2 separate regions of the Homo sapiens genome follow, and region 2 is linked to region 1. The links come from fine-mapping of genetic effects on gene expression. Tissue or cell type: lung. Region 1 holds a variant in brackets; the other region holds the start of a gene. All regions are shown on one strand. Distances are from middle to middle.

Region 1 (6,420 bases):
CGGTCTATCAATTTTGTTGATCCTTTCAAAAAACCAGCTCCTGGATTCATTAATTTTTTAAGGGTTTTTTGTGTCTCTATTTCCTTCAGTTGTGCTCTGATTTTAGTTATTTCTTTCTTTCTGCCAGCTTTTGAATGTGTTTGCTCTTGCTTTTCTAGTTCTTTTAATTGTGATGTTAGGGTGTCAATTTTGGATCTTTCCTGCTTTCTCTTGTGGGCATTTAGTGCTATAAATTTCCCTCTACACACTGCTTTGAATGCATCCCAGAGATTCTGGTATGTTGTGTCTTTGTTCTCATTGGTTTCAAAGAACATCTTTATTTCTGCCTTCATTTCGTTATGTATCCAGTAGTCATTCAGGAGCAGGTTGTTCAGTTTCCATGTAGTTGAGCGGTTTTGAGTGAGATTCTTAATCTTGAGTTCTAGTTTGATTGCACTGTGGCCTGAGAGATAGTTTGTTATAATCTCTGTCCTTTTACATTTGCTGAGGAGAGCTTTACTTCCAAGTATGTGGTCAATTTTGGAATAGGTGTGGTGTGGTGCTGAAAAAAATCTATATTCTGTTGATTTGTGGTGGAGAGTTCTGTAGATGTCTATTAGGTCCACTTGGTGCAGAGCTGAGTTCAATTCCTGGGTATCCTTGTTGACTTTCTGTCTCATTGATCTGTCTAATGTTGACAGTGGGTTGTTAAAGTCTCCCATTATTAATGTGTGGGAGTCTAAGTCTCTTTGTAGGTCACTCAGGACTTGCTTTATGAATCTGGGTGCTCCTGTATTGGGTGCATAGATATTTAGGATAGTTAGCTCTTCTTGTTGAATTGATCCCTTTACCATTATGTAATGGCCTTCTTTGTCTCTTTTGATCTTTGTTGGTTTAAAGTCTGTTTTATCAGAGACTAGGATTGCAACCCCTGCCTTTTTTTGTTTTCCATTGGCTCAGTAGATCTTCCTCCATCCTTTTGAGCCTATGTGTGTCTCTGCACGTGAGATGGGTTTCCTGAATACAGCACACTGATGGGTCTTGACTGTTTATCCAATTTGCCAGTCTGTGTCTTTTAATTAGAGCATTTAGTCCATTTACATTTAAAGTTAATATTGTTATGTGTGAATTTGATCCTGTCATATTATGATGTTAGCTGGTGATTTTGCTCGTTAGTTGATGCAGTTTCTTCCTAGTCTTGATGGTCTTTACATTTTGGCATGATTTTGCAGCGGCTGGTACCGGTTGTTCCTTTCCATGTTTAGTGCTTCCTTCAGGAGCACTTTTAGGGCAGGCCTGGTGGTGACAAAATCTCTCAGCATTTGCTTGTCTGTAAAGTATTTTATTTCTCCTTCACTTATGAAGCTTAGTTTGGCTGGATATGAAATTCTGGGTTGAAATTGTTTTCTTTAAGAATGTTGAATATTGGCCCCCACTCTCTTCTGGCTTGTAGAGATTCTGCCGAGAGATCTGCTGTTAGTCTGATGGGCTTCCCTTTGAGGGTAACCCGACCTTTCTCTCTGGCTGCCGTTAACATTTTTTCCTTCATTTCAACTTTGGTGAATCTGACAATTATGTGTCTTGGAGTTGCTCTTCTCGAGGAGTATCTTTGTGGCGTTCTCTGTATTTCCTGAATCTGAATGTTGGCCTGCCTTGCTAGATTGGGGAAGTTCTCCTGGATAATATCCTGCAGAGTGTTTTCCAACTTGGTTCCATTCTCCCCATCACTTTCAGGTACACCAATCAGACGTAGATTTGGTCTTTTCACATAGTCCCATATTTCTTGGAGGCTTTGCTCGTTTCTTTTTATTCTTTTTTCTCTAAACTTCCCTTCTTGCTTCATTTCATTCATTTCATCTTCCATTGCTGATACCCTTTCTTCCAGTTGATCACATCGGCTCCTGAGGCTTCTGCATTCTTCACGTAGTTCTCGAGCCTTGGTTTTCAGCTCCATCAGCTCCTTTAAGCACTTCTCTATATTGGTTATTCTAGTTATACATTCTTCTAAATTTTTTTCAAAGTTTTCAACTTCTTTGCCTTTGGTTTGAATGTCCTCCCGTAGCTCAGAGTAATTTGATCGTCTGAAGCCTTCTTCTCTCAGCTCGTCAAAGTCATTCTCCGTCCAGCTTTGTTCCGTTGCTGGTGAGGAACTGCGTTCCCTTGGAGGAGGAGAGGCGCTCTGCGTTTTAGAGTTTCCAGTTTTTCTGTTCTGTTTTTTCCCCATCTTTGTGGTTTTTATCTACTTTTGGTCTTTGATGATGGTGATGTACAGATGGGTTTTTGGTGTGGATGTCCTTTCTGTTTGTTAGTTTTCCTTCTAACAGACAGGACCCTCAGCTTCAGGTCTGTTGGCATACCCTGCCGTGTGAGGTGTCAGTGTGCCCCTGCTGGGGGGTGCCTCCCAGTTAGGCTGCTCGGGGGTCAGGGGTCAGGGACCCACTTGAGGAGGCAGTGTGCCAGTTCTCAGATCTCCAGCTGCATGCTGGGAGAACCAGTGCTCTCTTCAAAGCTGTCAGACAGGGACATTTAACTCTGCAGACGTTACTGCTGTCTTTTTGTTTGTCTGTGCCCTGCCCCGAGAGGTGGAGCCTACAGTTGCAGGCAGGCCTCCTTGAGCTGTGGTGGGCTCCACCCAGTTGGAGCTTCCTGGCTGCTTTGTTTACCTAATCAAGCCTGGCCAATGGCGGGCGCCCCTCCCCCAGCCTCGCTGCCGCCTTGCAGTTTGATCTCAGACTGCTGTGCTAGCAATCAGCGAGATTCCGTGGGCGTAGGACCCTCCGAGCCGGGTGCAGGATATAATCTCGTGGTGCGCCGTTTTTTAAGCTGGTCCGAAAAGCGCAATATTCGGGTGGGAGTGACCCAATTTTCCAGGTGCGTCCGTCACCCCTTTCTTTGACTTGGAAAGGGAACTCCCTGACCCCTTGCGCTTCCCAAGTGAGGCAATGCCTCGCCCTGCTTCGGCTTGCGCACGGTGCGCTCACCCACTGACCTGCGCCCACTGTCTGGCACCCCCTAGTGAGATGAACC[G/C]GGTACCTCAGATGGAAATGCAGAAATCACGCGTCTTCACTGGGAGCTGTAGACCGGAGCTGTTCCTATTCGGCCATCTTGGCTCCTCCCCCTACACACAAGAGTTTCTGTGAGTTTGGCATCTCTCAGTCAACTAGAACTAAATGTCTAGGTAATCTGAAAACTGCTGATTGATTGGAGATTTTCATTCGGATTTGCAGATTAGCTGAAAGAAGCTAAACCACTCCAGGAAGACCAAAGAAGCAAATCATACATCCAAGTTATCTGGCAACAACTTCATTGATTTAGTCAACATTGAGTAAAACAGGAAAAGGAATAGAACTTCATTGTTAACTAATCCATTCTTGAAAATAACTCACAGCCCAGCCTGTCTAAAACTGGGTGGACTGGAGGAAATTTGGTTCAAAAATTTTTGCTCCACAGGCTTTTGCAGTTCCACAGCACTTTGTATTTTCTAAGATGCTTCCAGAATCAGTACCTTGTTTGTGCTTCATGGGTAATTTGGGAAGGAGTGAGGACAGAGATAATTTCTATTTAATAAATAGATAAGAACATGAAAGCAAAAAAATGGAATGCCTTGTCCTATTTCAAGTTGTGAGTCAATGATGTACCCAGAATTGGAACATGAATATCTGACAGTTGATCTGGTTGTGTGGAAATAACTGGATAATCTATTTAATCAAGGGCCTATTCTCTGAGATGGTTCCTAACTAACTTCTTTTGGACATGACAAATATACGCATATATACGCATAAGGGGAATAACTTTAATATAACTTTATTTTCAAACTCTTCTTAACCATCTCTTCTTTCCAAATATGGTGGTGTAATTAGACTACGGCATGTATAGGTAAACTAGATTTTTGTAAGTGGCACTGAATTTGTCTTAGTCTTTCTCAAAATTCAGCAACTATATTTGTTATCTTTCATTCATCAGGATTCAGAGAGCAAAAAAATGTGTTTTAAAAAGTCTGATTTTATGAATAATTTGTGTTCATTAATAATATATAAGGAATATGTAAATATTATTCAACCACAAAAAAATCATCTTACAGGAACAACTAAGTCGGATGATCAGACCTTTCCCAATTTATTGCTGTGCCTCGTATTATGGAATATTTGTGCATTACCAGACTCAGTCAGAAAATAAAGGCAGCAACAATCACCAAAAGATGAAAAACATTCATCTTTTATGTAGCAGATTCTGATTCTGTGAAATCACCTGGCTGATTATCAGGGGATATAAGACAAAACAGAAGAGTTCATTCTTAGATTTCAGGGACTTCCAAGTAAGCTGTAGTAATAAGGTATCCTAAAAGGAAAGATCTAGGTGTCTGACAGTTGTAGGATCACATGTGAATATACTCGGACTCAAATGACAAAACAAAAAAACCATTTACTGAGCATATATTAAGGTGTGTACTGGACACTTATTATTAATAATCTCTTTCAATCTTGAACAAAACCTATGAAAACATAAATATGACTTTTTCCTCATTTTATAGGTAGGCAACTGAGACTCAAAGATAAATACCACCTAACGTTCCAAGGATAGGAGGTCAGTTTTTGAATGCATTTAGAAGGAGGGCGTCAGGGCCAGTCTTAAACATTATGCTCTTCTGTCTTTCATCGATATACTTGGAATATTCCTCTTTTGGAATTCCAGAAATATGAAAACAATTACCTTGATTGTTACCAAAAGGTTTCAACAAGTATCCATATTTAAGGGACAAACCAACTAACCAAAGTAACCAATTAGTAAAGAAATGAGGTGTGGGAATGAAATGAACATCAAGCAAAGGAATAGGTTGCTCTTCACAGATGAATCTTGTTTCCTGGAGTGTATGCATACTTACGAGACTTTTTGGTGGTAACATTGACTGGGGGGCTTGAGGGCCCTGTCCCAGCAGTGTTGTAAGCTCTTACGGAAGCAAAGTAGATGGTATTAGCTTTCAGCCCCGTGATGTTTTTGGTTGTGACATTTCCACTGACTCTAATTTTACCTATCATGGATTCTTTGGAGTCATCTGTCCAGTATAAGACCTGATAATTAAAAACCAAAACAAGCAATTTATTGTTCCCCAATAACTATCAATCATTTTTTACCAACAACTATCAACCACAACCACAAGGAATATGGGAAGAAGACAGAAGTATAGATGACAAAAACGTTTTCTAATTAAAATGGTTATACAACAACAAAATTGTTATTCTCTAATATTTATGAGGAAAAAAGTCATGAATGCAAATTCACAATGGAAATTAGAGAACGTGATTTTTTAGATTACCAAAATAAAGTATTTTATGAGCTATCTAAAGGTTACCAGCTTTAGCAAATGATGTATAACAAGTCAGACAAAAACACATTTGTATATAATCAGTCAAAGACTTTCATTATAATGTCTTGCTATTGGCATTTCTTTTCAGAGTTATTTGAATCACAGGTTAATTAATAATTCAATTTATACTGAACCCTACCTTTGCATTAGCATTGTTTTAGGTACATTGAAAAAAAAAGAGAATAAATTAAGTACCTATTTTCAAGCCCCTTATCATCTAGCTAAGAGGTTAGAATCCACAGTGTATGTGAAAATAAGTCACAGAATGCATTGCAAAGAAGTGGTATAGAAAAAATATGCTACAAGAATTTGACAAAATACATCAGGAATTGATGGGAGTAGAGCTCAGAGAGAAGAGGCGACTAGGGATGAAATTTGAGAAGTAACTAGGGTTCAGATAAGAGGTAAGGCATTCTTGGCATGGAGTGGAAAAGACACCTGTCCTGAGAGTAGAACTTTCTGTTGGAATCAGAGGATTATGGTTATATATATATATATATATGTGTGTGTGTGTGTGTATATATATATATATATATATATATGTGTATATATATGTATATATATGTGTATATATGTATATATATGTGTGTATATATAGTATGTATATGTATACGTGTGTGTGTGTGTATATATATATATATATATATAGGCAAAATTAAGAATGTTTAGGATTATACATTTATTCTAAATCCAAAGTTAAATAAATTATGTTACCCATTTTGTGAATCACTGAATTTGCAAGTTGAAAAAGATTGAGTGATGAACAACTTTCCCTTAAAATGTTCTTGTCTCTTTACTTTGTGAGATGAAGGCCTACAAATGTAATTTGCCTTATTCTTCATAGACTAAAAATAGCAGATTCAAGACAATCTAGGTATTTTTTTTCATTACTTAACTGCCTTTTCTGAGATGATTACATCTTTCCAAGTTATACTGCAATTCACAAAGCAGGTTTCTCAATGAAATTCTTCCATGGTGTAAGATGATTGAGGAGCAGACTTCACCTCTTACCAAGGGAAAAAAAAATGACTGCAATTTGAATAATTAATCATATAATCACCTGATCACTTTTGAAA
Region 2 (6,420 bases), 290 kb after region 1:
AATACAGAAGGTTGTGCCTTAATAGGTTTATTGCAAGCTATACTATTCATTCAAGTGGCAAACAAGAGAACAAGTGGTTCTCAAATAAAGAAGATAACCAATTTGTCAATTAAAATTGAAAAGAAATTTGGATATGAAAGATGTGGAAAGTAGACAAATGAGATACAACATGTACAAAATTGGTGATCCTGAAGAAAAGAAAGAAGCAAGATAACCACAATTTGGCCACGCCCAGTTAAGGGACAAAAAAGAAATAGTACAACAAATCCTAAAATAAAAGAATCTTAAATTAATGGGGCAAACCTCAAAAAAAGTTAATGAAAATGGAACAAATCCAGGAATATTCTGTAAAAGCAAACACCCATACACACACTCACACACACACACACAACAAAAGAATCATGTAGGCATTTATCAGAAAAAAAGCAAGTCACATTCAATGACGGAAATTGCAGACAGACCTAAAAATGTTGCAAAACAACTTTCAGTACAGGAAGGGTCTCCAAAAATGTTTAAACATTTACACATTTCCAAAAGAAAAAATTAAGCTTGATCCAAGAAAGATAACGTATCTTGCATGTCTAAGGCAAAAGAAATACATGTTCAAGATGCAAACTCATAGAAAATATAGCACCTATGACTATTTCTTTGGTGGAGAGGTACTACTTACTGAAATCTAACAACCCAAAAAATAATTGAAAATAAAGAACACAGAAATGGTGAATTGGGTAGTAAAAGCCTGTTGATAAAGGATAATTCCTTACAAATTTGAAATAAGTTTAAACTGAGACCATGGGAATTCAGCCAGAATGTATGTACTCAGTAATGTAAAACTGATGTAGTTTAAATTGAGGTGGTATGGGTGGAGTTGATGACAAGTCACATTGCAAATGCATTTAACTATCATAACAAGGGTTATAAAAGTTTGTTTACTATTTAAACGTGCATCCAAAAAAATCTTCAAACTATTTCTATTTTCAAAATTTTTGGTCTTAACTGTAAGGGTATTATTCTGGACATAATATCTCCATTGGAGAGAAATCTATACATGAAATTTAACAATTTCTTCAATGTTGTTTCAACTTCTCTTTTTTCAGTTTAATTAAAATCTAAAATCAAAAATTAAACTCAATGTTTCTGTTTTCTGTTTTCTGTTTGTTTGTTTGTTTGTTTGAGATGGAGTTTCACTCTGTCACCCAGGCTGGAGGGCAATGGCGCGATCTCTGCTCACTGCAAGCTCCGCCTCCCGGGGTCAAGTGATTCTCCTGCCTCAGCTTCCTGAGTAGCTGTGACTACAGGCACACGCCAAAACGCCCAGCTAATTTTTGTATTTTTAGTAGAAATGGGGTTTCACCATGTTGGCCAGGATGGTCTCAATCTCTTGACCTCGTGATCCGCCCGCCTCGGCCTCCCAAAGTGCTGGGATTATAGGTGTGAACCACCGCGCGCGGCCAATATTTCTGTTTTTTTTTAAGTGTAGGATAAGATCTCATTCTTACAGAAGAGTATCTATTATTGACTATATTATCTAAATATTTATTATTTATTTTTTAAAAGGTGTATAGTAAGAAACCATTCTTACAAAAGTATTTATCTCTCATCTTATCTGAATTTAGGCACCAGTATGTCTCCAATGATAGTCGCCAAATTTCATGATTGTTATTTACAGGTGATGGGTTTTCCCTTTTGAACTTTTATGTATAGTTTGAGTCATTTTTAATAGGTAGAACTTATACTTCTGCATTCCAATTAATATGTTATTAAAATAAACAGTGAATAAATAAGCAAATATTTTGTATTCCTTCTCCTCACATAAAAGAATTTAAAAGGTACAAATTTACTATTATACTACTGAGCATTTTTACTTACTAAAAAAAAAACCCAGAAGTATGCAATCAATTTAATATACCACACATCCTTTTCACAACATAATTGATTTTTTTTAGAGGGGGTTCTAAACTCAGAGAAAATATGTGATCCTTTTCTAAGTAAACAAGTGAATTTGTTTTCATTAAGGAAAGCTACATAAAAATTCTAAAAAAAAATTCTGGTCCTTCACTACAAATATTCAAAGGAAGTAATGCAATGAAGTCATTTATAAATGATTGACTTTTTTGCTAAGATGTGATAAGTTATGCATTTATATAACCTCACATAAAGCTTTATATAAAAGTTTCCACATTTATATATTTGAAATCTTTGGACTGCACAGCCATGATTATTGCTTAAAAAAAGAAAAAGAAACCCCACTGAAACATCAAAGATGAAATGCTTCTGTATTTCTTTTTTTTTACACAAATTGTGTAAGTATTTTTGTATGTTTATGTTTGTTTTGTGAACATGCGTATGTTTACACATGTGTGTGAAGGAGGAGGGAAAAAGAGTCTGCTTAAACATTTCTTTCCTTATAAAATACAATGCACATAAATTGGTGAAACCTTCAACAACAAAAATAAAAAGATGATAAACCCATCAGATAAATGAAAATTGCTCAAAACAAGCAATTCAATATTCAGCATATGCTTCTTCTTTTACAGACATCTTCAGAAAACATTGCCACTGTAGATAAAATTATGAATACCTCATTTTCCAAATTGATTCTGTGTGATTCTACTGTTCACTCTATTTTTTCTCAGTATAACTTCTATTTAGTCATTCTGTGAATGTTTCTCAGAGGACATAGTCAGGATGCTGATTATTTAAACATAAGTAGTTTTCATTTGGAGAAGCAAAAACTATGAATTCCAATTTTCCCCCCAAACCCCAATGTTACAGTATCCCATTAACATAATGGGTTATACGTGGCTAATCTCAGAGCTCTTAAAAGTTTTGTTCCCAAGTCATCAACTTCTGAAAGTTTTCATAAAGTATTATAAGAACCTTAATACTGACAACTTAACTGGTGTAAATGGTAAAGGAAACTCCAGAGGCTGTTATCTAGAAGCTGGGTATAAAGCAAAATGCCAGACAAAATTTGGTGAGCCCATATGACCTCCAGTCTTGCTTTGCTCCCCTTACCAAATTCTCCCCTAGGAAACTTTATAACCATTCTTTTAAATCATCCGGTGAGAACTGCAAACCCCACCCCTCATCCCTTTGATTAAAAAAAAAAAAAAGACAAAAAACATTTAGCGATCACATTTTCCCATCTGCCGTTACAGAAAGGGCGTGTAGCCATCTGAAAGTCCCAGAATTAGCACTGTCATCCCGTCTTGCCCATTAGTTTTACTGCAGCAAAGACTAGTGAAACACTGAGAAATATACCTGTAGTCTTTCTTTCCCTGGTTTGATCCTAACCTCCCGGAATACAGATTCAATACATTTCTCCCACACAAGGAATAAATGCATTTTAAACATCAGCATCATAGAAACACAGCATCAATAAAGCAGTGACTTCTCCCCCAACCCCAGCTTTTACCTGTTATGCTAATACAAAGACATTGAAAGGAAGAAAAGCTGCAGCTTGCCCAGCAATATTCTCATTGCAGCAGACACAGCACAATTTTGTACTTACAGATCTTACCAGGGAAATGTCTCGGGATCTTTACAGTTTTTCTGCAGAACTCTGTTTCAAGCTCTCAGCCAGGCATGCTGTGCGTCCAGGCAGAACCAAGCCGTATGGAATGTCTATGCAGCTGGGAGATAATGGGACTCTTTTTCCCAGCTGGGACTGCAAGCCTTTTATCCACTGAGTATTGCGTGGCTCTTCTCTGGTCTTAAGCATGAAATACGCTCCTCTCCTGCTGCATTCCTGTCGGAGCCAGACAATCAGTTCTTGAGGCACATGTGCAAAGCTCTCGTTTGGAATATTCAAAAGGAAAATTCTTTCTACATTGAAAGCCAGCTCTATCTTCATCAACCTTCACAGAATCAGAGAGAGCTGAGAGCAGCTGCCATTCCAGGGCCATGAAAGATTAAATTCACCCTCCTCTTTCTTTGACTGGAGATAGTCACTCCTGTCGGGTCATCAGAAAATCTCTCTTATTGAAAACTGGGTCAGACTAACTACTTATTAGGTTTCCAACAGGAAAGGAAGTAATTTTTTTCTTCCTCTGGTTTCACTGCATTGTCATTTGCAAGCAAAGATTAAGCTGGTCAAGGGTCTGCACTGATTTAGACAGTATTCAAATGTAAGCTTTTTGAAGCATGCCAGTAACTCCTATTAGTGAAGGTGAAGAGAAAAGGGAAATAAAATCAAATGATTGTATGCACTATCACTAAAACCTTTATAAGTTGTATTTTTTAAATGTGTGTATGAGGCTTCTTAAAGACAGGTAAAGAAAGTGAAGTCAAACAAGTCCAAAAGAGTATTGCTGCTTTCCGAGTAACATATTTGTAATTCCAGAGGCAGAGAACAAGTGTCTATGTGTTTGCCTAAGAGCTCTGTAAGAAGAAGAATTGTTTTTGTGTTTCACCCTGGGCCCTCCAACTAAACTTTTTAATATGTTTGGGTCTTGTCATCGGGTTTTGAAGGGACTAACTGCTTGAAGGATGAAAACTAAGGAATAGGAATTACACATACATGCACACTGAGACTCTAGTGCATACAAACATAACTATAACATGAGAAAAGAATGATAGTTTGGACTTATTTTCATGTTGGCATACAAAGAAATTATACTCTTAGCATCTTAAAGTAAGTGGATACTGAGAAAATGAAATCCCCAAATCAAATGGAAATAAGTCAAAAGATATTTCTTGGCCTCAGTTTACTTTCATCTGATGAGCAAGAAGGTTTCTATGACTACATTTTATGACTATGTCCTATGGATTTCTTCACAGGGTCTAACCAACATTATAAGAGGCTTTAGAAAGGAGATGATGCTTCCTAACACAAGGTAAACTCAAAATGGGCTACCCTATTGTTTCTCCCAATTCATAAGAAGGCAAACTAGACTAATAATTTTATAGAAAGAATATCTGTTTTTATTGCCTCTTTTTTTTTTTTTTAAAAAAAATAGAAGTATTTCTTGCTCTGTAGGAATAAAAATATATTTTATTTGTAAAAATGCCAAGATGACTTTTTCTGCAGAGTTTTAAGAAAAATAATCATTATGTAGTAGGCTTTATTTTTTTTTTGTGGAAAGAAATTCATTCAAGCTTAAAGAATATCCCTTTACTCAAATCTCCAACAGTCTGACTCATATTCAAGGACAGCTGATTGCTTTGCTTTCTATTTTACCCAAAAAGGAATAAGAACCAGAAGAAAACTTCAATAAGCTCCTGTCACTACATCTAGTCACATACTTGGCCCCTGTGACCACAGACTCTCCCTTCATCTTGTTACTTGAGGTGAACCGTGCTCCCTCCTTAGACCAAGCCATCCACCTGTGCTTTAGATAGTCTTCTACTCAAGGGACCATTCTACCCACTTGTCTCTCTCTGTGGAATCATCAACTCTCCCTACCTTCTGTAGCATCACAACAAAGAGATTTGCTGCTAGTTGGCCCATTTTAAAAATCAGCACCCCTTTAACATACCGTCTTCCTCTGTCTACTACTGCATTTCCTTGCTTCTGTTTATAGTAAAACACCTTGAAGGAATTCTCTGTACTTACTGTCTCCATTCATCTTTTCTCATTTTATCTTGAATCTGCTTTGATTAGTCTTTTGTCCCCACTGTTCCACATAAGTGTTTCTGGTCATAGTCAATATTAAATTACGCATAGAATAATGCAATGGTCAACTTAGTCCTAATTTTACTTGATGTATCACTCACAAGTAATACAGTTTACCAAGTACTCCTCCTTTAAGCATTGCTTTTGCTTAATTTCTTAAATTTTCTTCTCGTTTACTACCTGCTCCTTCTCAGATCCCTTTGCTGATATCTTCTCATTTTATTAATTTTTAAACACTGGGGGAGGAGGTGTGGGTATCAAGGATCTAAAACAAGGTCTGTACACTACAGGCTACACAGAATTACTAAGGAAAATTAATTAAGACCTAAATAAGTAAAGAAATATGCCACATTCATGGGTCAAAAACACTCAATATTTTTAAGAAGTCAATTATCTCCCAATAGGTTTTTAGCTTTAAAATAATCTCAGTGAAAATATCAGGAGATTTTCTTGTAGCAATCATCAAATGAGGCTAAAATTTATGTAGCAATAAAATTAACCAAGAAAGTAAAATCGAATGATAAACAAAGTTGGCAGACATATCCTGTGATTTTTACAATTTACTACTAGTAATAGAGCGATAAAGACGGTGTGATGTTGGCAGGATAGGTCAACAAAACATAATTAAGTGTTCAAAAACAGATCAGCACATATACAGTGGATTTTAGACAAAGGTATCAGGTAATTCAATGGATATTGTGCTAATGGATATGTGCCGATTTTAGGTGAATGGATTTTAGACAGAGTTATCAGGTAATTCAATGATAAAGGCATCATAATTCAAGAAATGGTGCTTGAACAAA

What was found. PIP is the estimated chance that this variant, and not a neighbour inherited with it, causes the effect.
Region 2: CNTN6 starts here. The variant in region 1 is the best candidate, but not a certain one, in a credible set for the expression of CNTN6 in lung (TOPMed, PIP 0.77).

Annotation. Positions count from the first base shown.
Region 1 is chr3:1,384,239-1,390,658 of GRCh38, reverse strand. CNTN6 (contactin 6) reads right to left here. Exons shown (of 23, transcript NM_001289080.2): 20 at 4,862-5,048. Among named protein-coding and RNA genes, the nearest start is that of CNTN6, 290 kb to the right of the region's middle. The variant G/C (reference allele first, on the strand shown) is at 3,007.
Region 2 is chr3:1,090,224-1,096,643 of GRCh38, reverse strand. CNTN6 (contactin 6) reads right to left here and starts at 3,620. Exons shown (of 23, transcript NM_001289080.2): 1 at 3,524-3,620.